Homo sapiens: one gene and its partners. The protein of the gene in region 3 interacts with the protein of the main gene of each other region in a biochemical or structural test. Each region holds a gene or a part of one and is shown on either strand. Other genes may lie near its edges.

What was found. The genes of interacting proteins can lie anywhere in the genome.
Region 1: the proteins of ARHGAP21 (region 3) and TJP3 interact in a test that uses a peptide from one of them, tested with the Homo sapiens proteins (one large-scale study listed by IntAct).
Region 2: the proteins of ARHGAP21 (region 3) and C3AR1 interact in a test that uses a peptide from one of them, tested with the Homo sapiens proteins (one large-scale study listed by IntAct).
Region 4: the proteins of ARHGAP21 (region 3) and CCDC134 interact in a test that uses a peptide from one of them, tested with the Homo sapiens proteins (one large-scale study listed by IntAct).

What each region holds. Positions count from the first base shown.
Region 1 is NC_000019.10:3,735,884-3,739,687, reverse strand, and holds part of TJP3 (tight junction protein ZO-3), read right to left. Parts: coding exon 3,753-3,804; intron 3,524-3,752; coding exon 3,367-3,523; intron 1,134-3,366; coding exon 1,025-1,133; intron 792-1,024; coding exon 554-791; intron 1-553. UniProt on the Homo sapiens protein: TJP1, TJP2, and TJP3 are closely related scaffolding proteins that link tight junction (TJ) transmembrane proteins such as claudins, junctional adhesion molecules, and occludin to the actin cytoskeleton.
Region 2 is NC_000012.12:8,059,556-8,063,359, forward strand, and holds part of C3AR1 (C3a anaphylatoxin chemotactic receptor), read right to left. Parts: intron 641-3,804; 5' UTR 631-640; coding exon 1-630.
Region 3 is NC_000010.11:24,717,112-24,721,221, reverse strand, and holds part of ARHGAP21 (rho GTPase-activating protein 21), read left to right. Parts: intron 1-4,110. UniProt on the Homo sapiens protein: Functions as a GTPase-activating protein (GAP) for RHOA and CDC42. Downstream partner of ARF1 which may control Golgi apparatus structure and function. Also required for CTNNA1 recruitment to adherens junctions.
Region 4 is NC_000022.11:41,824,679-41,828,482, reverse strand, and holds part of CCDC134 (coiled-coil domain-containing protein 134 isoform 1 precursor), read right to left. Parts: intron 2,786-3,804; coding exon 2,660-2,785; 3' UTR 1-2,659. UniProt on the Homo sapiens protein: Molecular adapter required to prevent protein hyperglycosylation of HSP90B1: during translation, associates with nascent HSP90B1 and the STT3A catalytic component of the OST-A complex and tethers them to a specialized translocon that forms a microenvironment for HSP90B1 folding.

The DNA.
Region 1 (3,804 bases), on a different chromosome or scaffold from region 3:
TAGTACTTTTGCTCTCCAGAACTGTAAGAGGATGTGTGTGTTGTTTAAAGCCACTAAGTTTCTGGGCATCTGTTACAGCAACAACAGGAAGCTCATACCAGCACCAAATGGGGCCCGCCCAGAGCCTTTTGTGGACCTCCTCAGATTGAACCACCAACACTGCTAAGCAGTGATATCATGCCTATTTATTTATTTATTGAGACAAGAGTCTCACTCTGTTGCCAGGCTGGAGTGCAGTGGCGTGATCTCGGCTCACTGTAACCTCTGCCTCCCAGGTTCAAGCGATTCTCCTGCCTCAGCCTCCCAAGAAGCTGGGATTATAGGCATGTGCCACCACGCCCAGCTAATTTTTGTATTTTTAGTAGAGACGAGGTTTCACCATGTTGCCCAGGATGGTCTCGATCTCTTGACCTCATGATCTGCCCACTTCAGCCTCCCAAAGTGCCAGGATTACAGGCCTGAGCCACCGCGTCCAGCCCAATCGAGCCCATTTCTAACGGGGAGACTGAGGCTGAAGCAGAAGTGCCCCACTGCAGGAGCACACAGTCCCCACCTGCTCTGGTTGGGAATGATGCCCCGCTCTTGCTCCCGCAGGTCACGACCCATGCGCACCGCCAGCCAGTGGCCTCCTCGTGCGTGGCTCTGCCCGGGGCCGGGGTGCAGCGTGTCCAGCACGTGGAAGACGTCGCCACGGGTGAAGCCCAGGCCAGACGGTGGACTGGGCTCCAGCTCAAAGTGAGTGCGGATGTAGAAGGAGTCACCCACGCGGGACTGCACCATTTTCCAGAAAACTGGGGAGAGCGGGAGGCCACATGAGCTGCCTGGGCTGCTGCCTGATCTGAGCCCTCCCCACCCGAGAGTGGGCCTGGCTGGAGATTTGGGGCACTCTCCCTGTAGGGGCCAGGGAGAGGGATGGAGGGTGCAGAGATGCAGATTCAACCACATCCCTGCACTCACCACCAGGCCACACAGCCAGGTCCTCCCCCCGCAACACACAGGCACACCCATATCCACGCGCACTCACTGTCCTGCTTCCTCTGCGTCACCAGCTCCATCTCCTCGCCTGGTGGCAGCCCCAGCAGGAACTGCACTGCCTCCTCCCGTGTCAGGTTCTGGAATGGCACGTCATTCACCTGCCAGAAAGCAAGTGCAGCTATAGAAAAAGCTCTGGTACCTCTTGGGCGTGCATGAGATCCTGGACCTTCCTCTGGGCAAAACTCAGCCCCAGCTGCTTCCAGAGCTGCTGCCAAGGGACCCGGCAGTTCCCCGAGGGCTTTCCGACTGGGGTATCACCCTATGGCTGTGTGATGTGTGACACAGACAGCTGGTGGCATTGTAAGGATACAAGAGTTTTGACACAGAAACGGGCACAGGCACTGCACTTGTCCTCAGATAACCAAATCATGGTGGGTTGTCAATATCAAAACATGGGAACAGAGGTCATGGCATGGAGCTCGATGGAAACTGTGTGAAATGCTCAAAAGAACTCAGACGTAGTCACAGTAGTCACAGGGTCGTGACAGGGACAACGATATATGGACACACAGTGGGTCACAGATGCCTACCACCAGGGTCATGACAGGGACAACAATATATGGACACAGCCATCTGCTCTCCGGGTCATGACATGGACAGCAATATACAGACACAGCCACCTGCTCTCAGGGTCATGACATGGACAGCAATATACAGCCACCTGCTCTCCGGGTCATGACATGGACAGCAATATACAGCCACCTGCTCTCAGGGTCACGACATGGACAGCAATATACAGACACAGCCACCTGCTCTCAGGGTCATAACAGGGACAGCAATATACTTGCACAGCTTGTGGGCACAGACACCTACTCTCGGGGTCATGACGTGGATGTCAAGGTTAGAATCCCACAAGCAAAATGAGTAGAAATACAGTAAAAAATACCATGACCCTCAGGCAATTTGGCATCAAGTTTTCACCCAGCCAGTGGGCTTATGACATGGAAAGTGGGGAGCTGTGACTCCATCATGAATCACAACTCACACTGCAAGGTCAAGACACAAGCAAGGTCATGAGAGCAAAGTGGGGGTGAGACTTGGTGAGTGAACTCGCGCAAGGGACAGGGGAGACAGCCTGGGGATGAGATGAGGCAAGGACAGAGATGGGGGGATGATGAGGGGCTGTGGATCCTGGAGGTAGTTATGACACTGTCATGAAGGCAGGACACAGGCAAGGTCACAACACAGACACAGGGGATGGTGGCACAGAAAATGACTATAAGTGGACATGGAGATCATGAGAGAATGATCTGTGACCTGACCACACGATTAGGACATACAAGACGGTCATGACACGGTCAACACAGCCAATGTCAGGAACAAGAGGATTGCGACCCAGACAAGGTCATGACATAGGCAATGAGGCTGTGACCCAAAGTCCTGACATTGATAACAAGGAGATTGTGACATTGATAACAAGAATGTCACATGAACAATGTCATATGACATGAACAACAAGATTGTTGTTCCCAATCTTGAGCACAGTGTCTCAAGCTTATAATCTCAGCACTTTGGGAGGCTGAGGCGGGTGCATCACTTGAGGCCAGGAGTTCAAGACCAGCCTGGCCAACATGGTGAAACCCTGTCTCTACTAAAAACACAAAAATTAGCTGGGCATGGTGGCGGCCACCTGTGATCCCAGCTACTTGGGAGGCTGAGTCAGGATGATCCCTTGAACCCGGGAGGCGGAGGTTGCAGTGAGCCAAGATCACACCCCCGCACTCCAGCCTGGGTGACAGAGCAAGACTCTATCTCAAAAAAAAAAAAAAAAAAAGTTAGCCAGGCGCAGTGGCTCATGCCTGTAATCTCAGCTACTTGGGAAGCCGAGGCAGGTGGATCACCTGAGGTCAGGAGTTTGAGACCAGCCTGGCCAACATGGCGAAACCCTCATCTCTACTAAAAATATAAAAATTAGCCGGGCGTGGTGGTGGACAACTGTAATCCCAGCTACTCAGGAGGTGAGGCAGAAGAATTGCTTGAACCTGGGAGGCAGAGGTTGCGGTGAGCCAAGATCACACCATTGCACTCCAGCCTGGGCAACAAGACCAAAACTCCATCTCAAAAACAACAACAACAAAAAATGAACCCAGATAAGGTCAAGGCACAGAAAAGGAGGTTGTAACTGGACGATGAGGTCATGACCTGGAAGATAAGGTCGTGACATCAGCAAAATCATGACACAGCCAAGGAGACACTGAAATGTTCAAATACCCATCTGGGGTCTCGACAGTCCCCAGGTGGACCCAAGGGGAGGACTGGAACAGACAAGGGCAGGACCTAGCACACTGCACGCCCATGATCAGTGGGGCTGGCCAGCCGCCCCCGGAGCACCTGCAGAATCTGATCTCCCTCCTGGATGCCCTGCCCGTCGGCCGGGCTGCCCGCCTGCACCCCGGACACGAAGATGCCCACGTCATTGCCCCCTGCCAGCCGCAGCCCGATGCTCTTGCCCTTGAGGAAGCGGACCACACGCGTGTCGGGGCTGTACCTGCAAGGGGAGGCAGAGATGGGGTCAGAGCAGAGTGGGCGGACAAAGGGAGGGCTCAGCATTGTCCTTGGGAAAGCCCCCACCCCCTCCAGGCCTCAGTTTCCCCAAAACCCCCACTTAATGGTCCCACTCAACACAATGGATACAAGCAGGCAGGATTGCGCTGATGAGGGAGGCAGCCTGGGATGTAGGAGTTTTGAGCGGGTTTGCTTTCTTCTGGGGTACATACCCACGATCCTCCATGCTCTGACTGCTGGGCACTCTGTAGATGTCATAGCTGC
Region 2 (3,804 bases), on a different chromosome or scaffold from region 3:
CCTATCATTCATTTCTCCAGGCGGCTGAACAATGTTTTCAAGAGACCTGTTTTCTAGTGGATCTCCATAAAAGTCTGGATAATCTAATGAGCTGGAGAGACCAAATTTGTAGCCACATCTATTATGGTTGTCTGTAGTGAAGATTTCCCGGTACACGAACACAGGAATGCACATCACAAAAGCCACCACCCAGATACATCCACAGATAGAGCAGGCCATCCCTACATTGCGATGATTCTGACACCAGATTGGCTTGAATACCACAAGACAGCGATCCAGGCTAATGGCAGTAAGCAGGAAGACACTGGCAAACATGTTGAGGACAATGATGGAGGGGATGAGCTTGCATAGGAACCTGCCGTAGGGCCACTGTCCCTGGAGAGCCAAGTGAGCCAGCGAGAAGGGCAAGGAGAGGCAGCAGAGGAGGTCCGCCAAGGTGAGGTGGAGGAACCAAATTGTGTTCACTGTCCGCTGCATCTTCAGGCCAGCCACCCACAGCACCAGCCCATTGCCTGGCAATCCCAGTAAAAAAGTAAGGCTGAGAATGACCATGGAGAGAATTACTGGGGGCTCATTCCATGGCTGTGAGAGTAGGTCAGTTGAATTGGTCTCAGCAGAGAAAGACGCCATTGCTAAACTTCTGCAAAAAGATGAAAAAAATGTTAAAACAAACAGTATCTTTTTGAAAATGCATACATATTCTTAGGATTCTAATCTTCCCACATAAAGATGTGGGATCATGAAACCAGAAGGTCCTCACGCTGTTTTAGTTTGCCTTCCTTCACCTCACACGGGACCACATAAAAGCATTCTCTGATAGACAATTATATTTATTTATTAATTTATTAATTATTTTTCAGACAGAGTCTTCCTCTGTCGCGCAGGCTGGAGTGCAGTGGATTGATTTCAGCTCACTGTAAGCTCCGCCTCCCGAGTTCAAGCGATTCTCCTGCCTCAGCCTCCAGAGTAGCTGGGATTACAGGCGTGCACCACCACGCCTGGCTAATTTTTGTATTTTTAGTAGAGACGGGGTTTTGCCATGTTGGCCAGGCTGGTCTTGAACTCCTGACCTCGGGTGATCTGCCTGCCTTGGCCTCCCAAAGTGCTGGGATTATAGGCATGAGCCACCATGCCCATCCTATGATAGACAATTTAAAATCTACTGTATTGATTTATGTGTGTATCAAAATCACAGCCTCATCTGGAAGTCCATATTAGTGTAAATTTCTCCTCTTTCTTGTACTTTCAATCTTGGTTTTTCCACTGGCTCCTTTCTTCACCCAGTGTGTTTAAAAATAAACAAATAAGCTAAATAAGTAAACACACAAAAATATCTGGACTGGAGGTCTCCAACCTGAGGTCACGAAAGGGTTTTAGGAAGTTCCATCACCACCTAAAATGATATGCAAAACTTCAACTTTACATATTCTCATTTCTCTGAGGGCAGAAGCTTCATCCACTCTCCCCACCAGATTTTCAGAGGACTCGCCGCCACAGAAAGAGGTACTCTAGACTCAGCGATGTCTTTTAGATACAACTCCATCTCCTTTTGCTTTCAAATTTTCCAAGAGTTGTTGGCCCTCTGCATTGACTTCCTCACTACCTATCATTTCTTTCTTATTTATTTGTGTTTTATGACCGTAACTTGGGAAAAGAGCTTTATTATTACAAAAGCAAAAAATATGCATGAAGAAAATTGGAAAATATAGACAAACAAAAAAGAAAATAAAAATATACTCACTAGTCAGTGATTATTATTTTAGCACCTGAATTTATATCCTCTTGACCTTTTTTTATGTGTGTGTGTGCATTTAGGTATACACATGCGTATCTTTAGACAGCAGGGGCTGTGATGGCTAGAAGCCTTCTAATATGTGGGACAGTGCTTCATTTATTTATTTATTATTATTATTATTATTATTTTTGAGACAGAATCTCCCTCCGTCATTCAGGCTGGAGTGCAGTGATACAATCTCGGCTCACTGCAGCCTCTGCCTCCCGGGTTCAAGCAATTATCGTGCCTCAGCCTCCTGAGTAGCTGGGACTGCAGTTGCCCACCAACGTACCAACTAATTTTTGTATTTTTAGCAGAGACAGGTTTTGCCATGTTGGCCAGGCTACTCTTGAACTGCTAGGCTCGAGTGATCCTCCCTCCTCTCCCTCCCAAAGTGCTGGGATTACAGGTGCGAGCCACCGCGCCTGGCCCTAACAAAAAAATTTTAATTGCCAAACACATGTATCATAACATTTACCATCTTCACCATTTTTAAGTACACAGTTCAGTAGTGTTTACCATATTCACGTTGTACAACCAATTTTCAGAACTTTTTCATCTTACAAAACTGAAAATGTGCTCAGGAAAGAATTCCCCATTTTCTCCTTTTCTCAGCCCCTGGCAATCACCATTGTACTTTCAATTTCTATGAATTCGACTACTTTAGATATCTGATCTAAGTGGAATCACACAGTATTTGTCTTTTTGTGTCTGGTGTATTTCACTTAGCATAATGTCTTCAAGCTTCCTCCGCGTTGTGGCATGGGTCAGAATTTTCTTTCTTTTTAAGGCTGAATAATATTCCATTGTAGGTCTATACTTCATTTTGTTTATCCAGTCATTCCACAGAGGACATCTGGATTGCTTTCACCTTTTGACTATTGTGAATTATGCATCAATGAACATGGGTGTAAATACATATTTTTTATACATTTTTTTCTTTTTTCAGTTAGCAGTCTCCACATTATACAATATGTACCATAAGGAATACCCGACCTTTATCTGTTTTGTTTCTGTTTGTAAAGATGGGGTCTTGCTATGTTGCTCAGGCTGGTCTCCAACTCCTGGGCTCTACTGATTCTTCCTCGGCCTCCCGAAGTGCTGAGATTACAGGCACGAACCACCATGCCCCCCCTTTTATATGATTATTTTTCAACTGTCCCTAAGACATCTTTTATAGCTGGCTTGTCCACGACAATATCTACTTCAGATCGCACTTTCTTCTTAAGTCTCTTAATTTAGCATAATTTCTCTTTTTCAAGGATACTGCTTTGTTTTGGGGCCTACGCCTACTGTTCTGAACACTAACTTCTTCTTTTTTTCTTTTTTCTTGAGATGGAGTTTCGCTCTTGTTGCCCACGCTGGAGTGCAGTGGCGCGATCTTGGCTCACTGCAACCTCCTCCTCCCGGGTTCAAGTGATTCTCCTGCCTCAGCCTCCCAGTAGCTGGGATTACAGGCATGCGCCACCATGCCCGGCTAATTTTTTTTTGTATTTTTAGTAGAGAACGGGGTTTCTCCATGTTGGCCAGGATGATGTTGATCTCCCGACCTCAGGCGATCCGCCCGCCTCGGCCTCCCAAAGTGTTGGGATTACAGGCGTGAGCCACCGCGCCCGGCCCTTTTTTTTTTTTTTTTTTTTTTTTTTGTGATGGAGTCTCGCTCTGTCTCCCAGGCTGGAGTGCAATGGTGCGATCTCGGCTCACTACAGCCTCCGCATCCCGGGTTTAAGCAATTCTTCTGCCTCAGCCTCCCGAGGAGCTGGGATTACAGGCGTGTACCACCACGCCCGGCTAATTTTTGTATTTTTAGTAGAGACGGGGTTTCACCATGTTAGCCAGGATGATCTTGATTTCCTGACCTGGTGATCCGCCCGCCTCGGCCTCCCAAAGTCCCGGGATTACAGATGTGAGCCACCAGGCCCGGCCGGCCACCAACTTCTTAATTCTTTGTAATGTATCTTCTGCTTCCATAATTCTGCTAAAATTACTTCTAAAAACCAAATCCAAACGTTTGTTTCTCAGTCACCTTC
Region 3 (4,110 bases):
TTTATACCCTCCCTTTCACTACTCTGAAGTTCTGTGAGCTGCTCTGGGGTGTCAGGTGGGTTGCGTTGCTGGTTAGGGTAGCATCTAGCATCTAACATCTTCCCAAGGGCCCAGAGATTTTACTCCAGACTTCCTGAAAATTTTTGAGCAGGCAGGACAGAAATCATAGAAAATACATTGATTTATGACACGCATATACTCTGTTGCCTCTCACCTTTTTTTTTTTTCCTCGTGTTTGGAGATTGAAGTATTCGGAATTTACTTCTATTATGAATATACTATGTTTATCATTGGCGGTTCCTGTAATTTGTTCTTTAAATAGACTGAATATTGTTATCCTTTAAATTTTACTTTTGAGATGCCTATGTTTTCATTGAAGGGTTGAGGATTACTTTAGACAATAACATACCCAAATGAACCCTCATTCACTGTCTCACTTTCTTTTGCACCGGATGTTAAATTTTAACTTCATAGTCCTTGAAACAAGGGCTGGCTCTAAGTGTGTGAGTTTTGGCATTTTAATAAAAATGAATCAGAAGTTAAATTTTGGTTCATAAAGCAAGCGGAGAAACTTGCTTCATGCAGCTTACTTCATGTCGAATTAGAAAGTTTATGCAGAAAACGTTGTGAGGTACAGTGTGCTATTACTGTACAATTTATTAGGCAGAACTGTAGGTTTACATTTAGAATCAGTGTTTTACTTTTTGACATCTGTAAACACCTGCTTGCAGGCAAAAGCATGATTAAGTGGAACACCACAATCCTCTGATCACGGTAAACCATAATAACTCCTTTTGGAAGGCCTACCTGCAACCTGGTGATTGCTTAATGTGTATTGCAGTTACATAATAATATGTATTGTGGTCCTGAAGCCTTATTTGTCATTGTCTTGTGAATACTTTAATTAGCATTGTATTTGCATTCTGTTTGCAAGAACTAATGTTATTTGATTTTTTTTTTTTTTTTTGGTCATTTAAGAGATGTCCTGAAACCAAGAATTTAGACACATCTTGTCCTTGGCTAGCAAGCAGTATTTCCAGTTTGTTGCACACTTGGCTTTTATTAACAATGACAGTTATGTATTTTTTAACGGCTGTGAAATTTGTTTTCATTTGGACCTTACTGCTGGCAGCATGGCTATCTTGTTTTTAAGTTTAGCAATGAAGAAAACACAATATCACCTGTGTTTTGCTTATGTGAAATATATATACAGTATTTAGGTTTGGTATTAAACTACAATATTATTTGACTTTCTAAAGAATAGGTATTTTGCCTAGATTCTATGTGGAAGTGGAAATAAAGGGGATATATGTTGTCAGAAAACATTTTAAAACCTCAGGGTTGGGAGTGAAGAGAACTTGTGTAATTATTGCCTGTATTTAGTTGTGACGTGTTTTAATCTGTGATTGATGCTTCTGATACACATTAAATCTTGTGAATATTTTTTAGTAATAGGGAGTTAGTTGCTAATGAAATACTTTGGGCTGATATTTAGGTTTTTGAACATTGCATTTAATTTTTGTCGTCAATTTTATTAGAAGCACTACATTCCACAGTGGTACTATCACTCTTTAAAAAATTTTAAAAATCAATAATGTGTTTGGATACTACATTTATTATTGTGTTTTTAACTAACAAAGAGATGAGCATGTGTGTCTTAATAGTAATGCTGTTAATCAGCCAAGAAAACCTAACTTTATAGGACAGAAGAAATCAATGTAATGAATTAACAGGAGTCTCTGTTTCATGCTTTATCTAATTAGCCAACTCCACCTTCTCTGAATAAGGCCTTGTGCTTTGTTGAAAAACAATCAGAGATTTCTTGTTCATCTTAAGCATTGCAATTTTATTGTGTTGATATATGATATACATTTAGGCCTCCCCACCCCCAGGATATATTGGAAGCCTCAAAACAAATAAACAGCCCTCTTCAAATAAGAAATTAGGACAGTTCAGTAGAATATGTCTTGGCATTATACAGTAAGGATGGTCCAGATGGTACTCACACGAATTTATATACTTTTATACATCTCAAGGTGTATTTTTAAAACTTGAAATCACTCACTCTGAACCTCTTAAGTGATTTTTGGGGTGTGTGTGTGTGTGTGTGTGTGTGTGTGTGTAGTCCGTGAAGTCTTCTGACACCAATCCTTGAGTAACTTTGCTCACAAAATCACTTTATATAGATTCTTCTGTTGAATCCTCTATGATATTATCACCCCTTTTCATATCCATATAGCTTCATCTTTCAAGGTTTAACTTTTTTTTTAAGCCAAAGAAGAGAAAACTTTCCCTCAGCTTTCTTAACCACATGATTTTTTTTCCATTTCTAACATTTATTTCATTTTTTATCTGTAGTCCATACTCTTGTCCAGTAATAGAATTTTTGTCACTTTATTATTAAACTTTTTACTAATGCAAATGAACTTATTTTTGTTTTGCTTCTTGACCTAGGCTAAGATTATTCTATGACTGAAATGTATTATGGCTGATGAAATACACTTGTTGGTTGATTTTGAAATACTGTAAACAATACAATAAGACATTTTTCTGGGTACGAGTTTGTATGAATCCATGTGTTGACTCTTCCTTCTGGAATGCTGGACAGTTTGCTTTTGCTTTCATCCCAGACTCCCTAGTTCCTTCTCAGGCGCTCTCTCTTCTCCTCCCCTCCTTTCTATCTCCCTCTCTATCTGCCTCTTTTGTAGGGTTTTTCTTCCTCTTCTTGCCCCATTGTTGGTTTTATCCAGAGCCAAGGCCTTTCCATTCCTGTATTCTCTTTCTCACTCCCTGGGTTTTATTTTGCACTCTCCTGTGTGCTGGTGACTCCGTATCTACCCCTCTATCTCAGGCTTTATGGTTGATCTCTAGACCTTTTCAGCCAGTTGCCTATTTACCGAACACTTTTGGGGGATATTCCCCAGGCATTGCAAACTCATCAGATTTCACCGCTACCGCTGACTCTCCCTCTTCCTGTGCACCTTCTTTCGCTGAGTAGCACTACCATCTATTTATTGGTCCAAGTCAAAAACTAGGTCAGCATTCTCACTCTTCCGTCTCGTCATTCCTCATATGCAAAGTCTTGTGGAGTCCACATTCCCAATACCCACTACCCCCACCTGAGTTCAGGTCAGCTGCATCTCACTGATGAACCACAGAAACAGATTCCCTACGGAGTTTCCCAATAACTTAGCCTTGTCCCCTTCCGCAGCTCTGTCCCTACTGTAATCAGAATGATCCTCCTGATGGGCAGATGACCTGAGGTCAGGAGTTGTACACCAGCCTGAGCAACATGGTGAAACCCGGTCCCTACTAAAAATACAAAAATTAGCTGGGCGTGGTGGCGCACACCTGTAGTCCCAACTGTTTGGAGGCTGAGGTATGAGAATCCTTGAACCCGGAAGGCAGAGGTTGCAGGTAGCCAAAATCGCGCCACTGTACTCCAGCTGATCGTTACATTACCTCCTATAAGACAATTTTCTGTCTTCCCATTTCCTTTGAAATAAAATTCAGACCTCTGTGAAGTCTGAAAGGACTTTGGTAATTTGGTCCGCGCTTCTGTCTCACTTGTTACTTCTTTTTGTTCTTCCTAGATTGAACTCCTGTCAGGTCCTTTCTTCTACCCTTCCCTCTACTGTCCCCTGTTCCTCCTCCCTCTGCTCCATGGCTGATTTTTACTCATCATACTGGTCTTTTCTTCAATACTGCTTCCTCAGGAAAGCCTTCCCTGACCCGCAAGACTCTTTCAGTTGCCCCTAGTGTATTCTCTCAAAACACCCTGCACTTTCAGGAATACCAGTTACAAGTTTATCTATATCCCCCTTGGATTGCAGTCCCTATAAGAGCAGGGACCATGTTTGTTTCCACAGGGACTGACACATAGTAAGTGTCAGGTGATATTTTTTGAATGAATAAATGAATATGCAGGAAAGGCTTTACATTTTATTCAGTGTTCATTTAGATTCCCGGACATTATACTCTCTTGATTATCTTCCTTCCTCGTTGTCACCTCCTTCTGTCTCTTTGAGGTTTCCTCGACATCCTGATTTGCTAAACCTTTCTACACCTCAAAGCTCAGTTAATCCTCATTTCTTCTCCCAATACTGTTTC
Region 4 (3,804 bases), on a different chromosome or scaffold from region 3:
AGAGGAAAGAGCCCAGGAGGAAGGAGGTGCCAGAAGGGGCAGATGAGGAGATAGTTCAAGACCAGGCCCCACTCTTTGGCTCTGCATATATAGCAGGCAGTCAGTAAATACATGGGATGAACAAGGAACCGTCAGAGAAGGGCACACATCACTGAGAAGTCACTTAAATTCCAGGTTTCATCCTTTCAACCACTGGGCATTCTGAGATGGGGGGCCCAAGGATCTGAGTGTGAAGAGCCTGGTTCTGATAACAACAGCTGGCAAGAGACAGCCCAGGCTGGTCCCAAGTTGCCCAGGTCTTGCCACCACACTGGGCTGGCTTCCCCATTGCTCTGCAGTTGCCCAGCTCTGCTTCAAATTATACAAATCCTGCTAATGACAGAGCCCGTAGAAGTTATTCAGTAGAAAGAACCTCCAGCCGAAGCTGGACCCACCACTGACTGTCCTGAGGTATGCTTTAGCCTCCCTGCCACCCCAAGAAAGCTAGGTCTGCTGCCAACCAGGCCTGGTTCTTAGAAAGTTTTTTCTCCAGTTAAGGGGAAAGCCAAGCACCTTCTCTGCTAAGTCAGCAACCACAACCACTCTCTAGCATGAAAAGGACAGCGACTGGCCTGGTCCTTCCGGCAGGGAAGAGCTTGCGGGCTGGTCCTGACACCCAGCTCCAGCTGCTGGCACCAGGACAGGTTAAACAGCTGAGCCAGTGAATCTGACCCTTTCCCGTTGATGCAGGAAAATAGGGTCTGGAGGCAGGGAACATAAGGCCAATTCACGCTTCAGCTATAACAGGGAATATCCTCCCCATAGGGTATATGCTGTAAATGAATTTGTAAATTTACTTCATCCTTTCCATTTACATAGGGTGTACCTCAAGTAACCAATGGAATCCTCTAGTGGGTATTTACTCCCAAAAATTCTGTAACGGGCCCCTTGAGTCCCTATGCTCAGGCCCTCTCCCATGCTGTGGAGTATACTTTCATTCTCAGTAAAACCCTTCATTCCTTCCTTGCTTTGTGCATTTTGCCCAATTCTTTGTTCAAGACATCAAGAACCTGGACACCCTCCACTGTTAATGCCATGGACCAGCCCTTTAGTTCACAGACTCGGGTGTCCATGTGGCTGGGGTCACACAACCTGAGAAGGGCAGGGTGGAGATGAAACTATGTCTGTTGAGTCAGTCCCACCACACTGCCCTGCCTCCACTGCCCAGTGAGGGGCCTTCTGATGGGGAAATTTCTCCAGCACTCCTCCCAGCCCCCACACCCAGCTCTCTTCCAGCTGCTTCTTGTCCCCTTACTTCCGAGTAACTGATGGGTGCAGGATGTTCTGGGCCCTTCCATGAGGCTTCTCTAAGGCTTGGCTTCCCTTTGCTGCTGCAGCCCCGTAGGGAGGCCAGCCTCAGAGAAACAGGTTAGGGCTGGGCAGGGGATACAGATACCATCAAATTCATTTTGCCAATGAAGCTGCAGCACAGGGAGGGGTGGGCCAAGGCCAGTCAGCAAATCTGAAGGGCTAACACTCAGATCTCACTTGTGCTCTGTCAGTGGTAGGGGGCTGGGTGTCGAGGGGATCTGGGATGGTTTTCTCTGCTCCTTTAAGAGGCAGATCCTGACTTGGCAAGGTCAAAGAGGCAGAGCTAGAATTCTCACTAAAGCCCTTCCCTCCTCTGCTTGGGAGGGGCATGAGTGAAGGGCAGCTGCCCTACCCAGGGCCACATGCCCTCTGCAGCTTCCCTGCCCTGTGGCCTCCCGAGACGGGAAGCTGTCTGACCCATGCAGCTTAGGGCAGCCATTGCGGAGCACGGCCTCCTGCAGGGCTGCGGCCTGTCCCCCTGCAGCCCCCCACCCACAGGTTGACTGTCTTCCAGCGCTGCCAGAGAGAACAAGCTGACTTCCCTGTGCTTGCTCAATGACTGTCCCCAGACATCTGAGGACAGGGATCATGTTGCTCCAAGGTCTTCTTGAGCTAAATGTTTCCCAGGTCCCAGGGCACTTCCAGGTCCTTTCCCAACACCAATCATTTGTCAAGGGCAGTGATGGCGTAGGACCAGGAGGCCCAAGCCAAGCCCCTTCCTTCTCTGCCCTGCCAGGGCCTGGGGCCCCTCCTGGTGGGGCAGAGGCATCCTCCAAGCTGTTTCTACATCCCTGAGGGGCCCTGGTCCCCTCACAGTGTCCCCACCAGCCTTGGTCGGTCCAAAGGGTCTGCTGGCTTTTATTGTGTCTCTGCAGAGGGGCTGGGACCTGTGCCAGGCAGCTCTGTGACACAGTGGGGCCAGCAGCAGGGTGGCACCCTGACCCGTGGCTCAGAACCTAGTTCTGCTGCTTCCCCACCAAGGGCGGAAGCCAGCTGGCCAGAGGTCTTCAGCCACCAACAGGGTCCAGGCAGGCATCCTCCTGCCTCCCCCAGCAGTCTGCACAGGGTCATATTTCCAGCATAAAATCCTCTGAAGGCCCCTTCAGCAGGAGGCCCCTGAGAGAAAATCCAGCCATCTGAGGCTCAGTCCCTTCAGCTGGGGCTCAGACCCAGCTCCAGGGGGCCGGGCAAATGTGGCCTCCCCTTCTGGAAGGGGCTAGCTGGTGCTCTCCACCACAACCACACCTCCACCTCTTCTTCCTCCCGACCTGCCTCCTTGTGGCCCCCTGAGCCCTGAGCTGCTCCAGGGCTATAACTCAGACTGGGATCTGGAGATCCTTGGGCCTTTTCGGATCTCCTTCCGCTTCTCCTCTTTCTTTCGGCGTTTCTCTTCTTCTCTCAGGGCCTTCTGGAAAGGGTCAGTGCTGGGAATGAACTGAAGGGAAGAGAAGAGCAGTCTGATTTAGTCTGTGGCAGCAAAGAGCCTGCTCTGAGCTAGGCCACCAGCGGGGTGTGGGAATAGGAAGGTTCCCTGGACACAGGCCCTGCCCCAGACACGGAGACAGGAAATGGGTTTGGGAGAACTGCTGAGTGGGTGTTGGAAGATAAGCAGGAGTTTGCCAAACCAACGGCATGAGGAAAGGGAAGGGTATTCTAGGTGGAGGGACGGATGCTGAGGTGGGAACCTACATGGGGCATCTGAGAAACAACACACAGACTCCTCCAGGGTGAGGGAGTAGAGTGGCTGAGACCACCACAGACCCGGGAGCCCCACACCTGCTGCACCCTTCAGGAGGAGAGGAGGGAGGTCAGCCAGAGTCACAGATGACAAGGCAAGTGGGGGGGTGGAGGATGAGGACTTCATTGGCGGTAGGGGGTGGCGTGGGGGCATTCTTCAACTGCAACCCAGGCCCTTGGCTGTCCTCCCTCCTCTCTCTCCAGATTGTCTCGTCTAACTCATAGCTTCTGTTGGCCTGTGTGGTTAGTTACCCCTCAAACTTGCATCTCCATTTCCAAATGCCTGTCTGAGACCTCCTTTAGGATGTCCCAAATGCACCCTAGACTCAGTATGGTTCCCTCTCCCCAGAGTCCCTGTTCTGATGAGCAGCAGGGCAGAAACCGAGGAGCCCCACCTGCACCCGGCATTCCCTCTCCCTCCTCGGGTCCATCACCAAGGCCTGGCTACTTTCAAGCCCTAAATCTCTCTCAAACCCATCCACTTCTCTGTCTCTACTATTGCTGCCCCCATCACCACCCCCATCTCTCTGCTGGATGACTCTAGGGGCCTCCCAAGGGCTTTCCACATCCCCTTTGGTCCCTCTCAAGTCATTCTCCTCACTGCAGTTGGATCTTTTCTTTTCTTTTCTTCTTTTTAGACAGAGGTCTTGCTCTGTCGCTCAGGCTGGAGTGCAGTGGTGAAATCTTGGCTCACTGCCACCTCCACCTCCCGGGTTC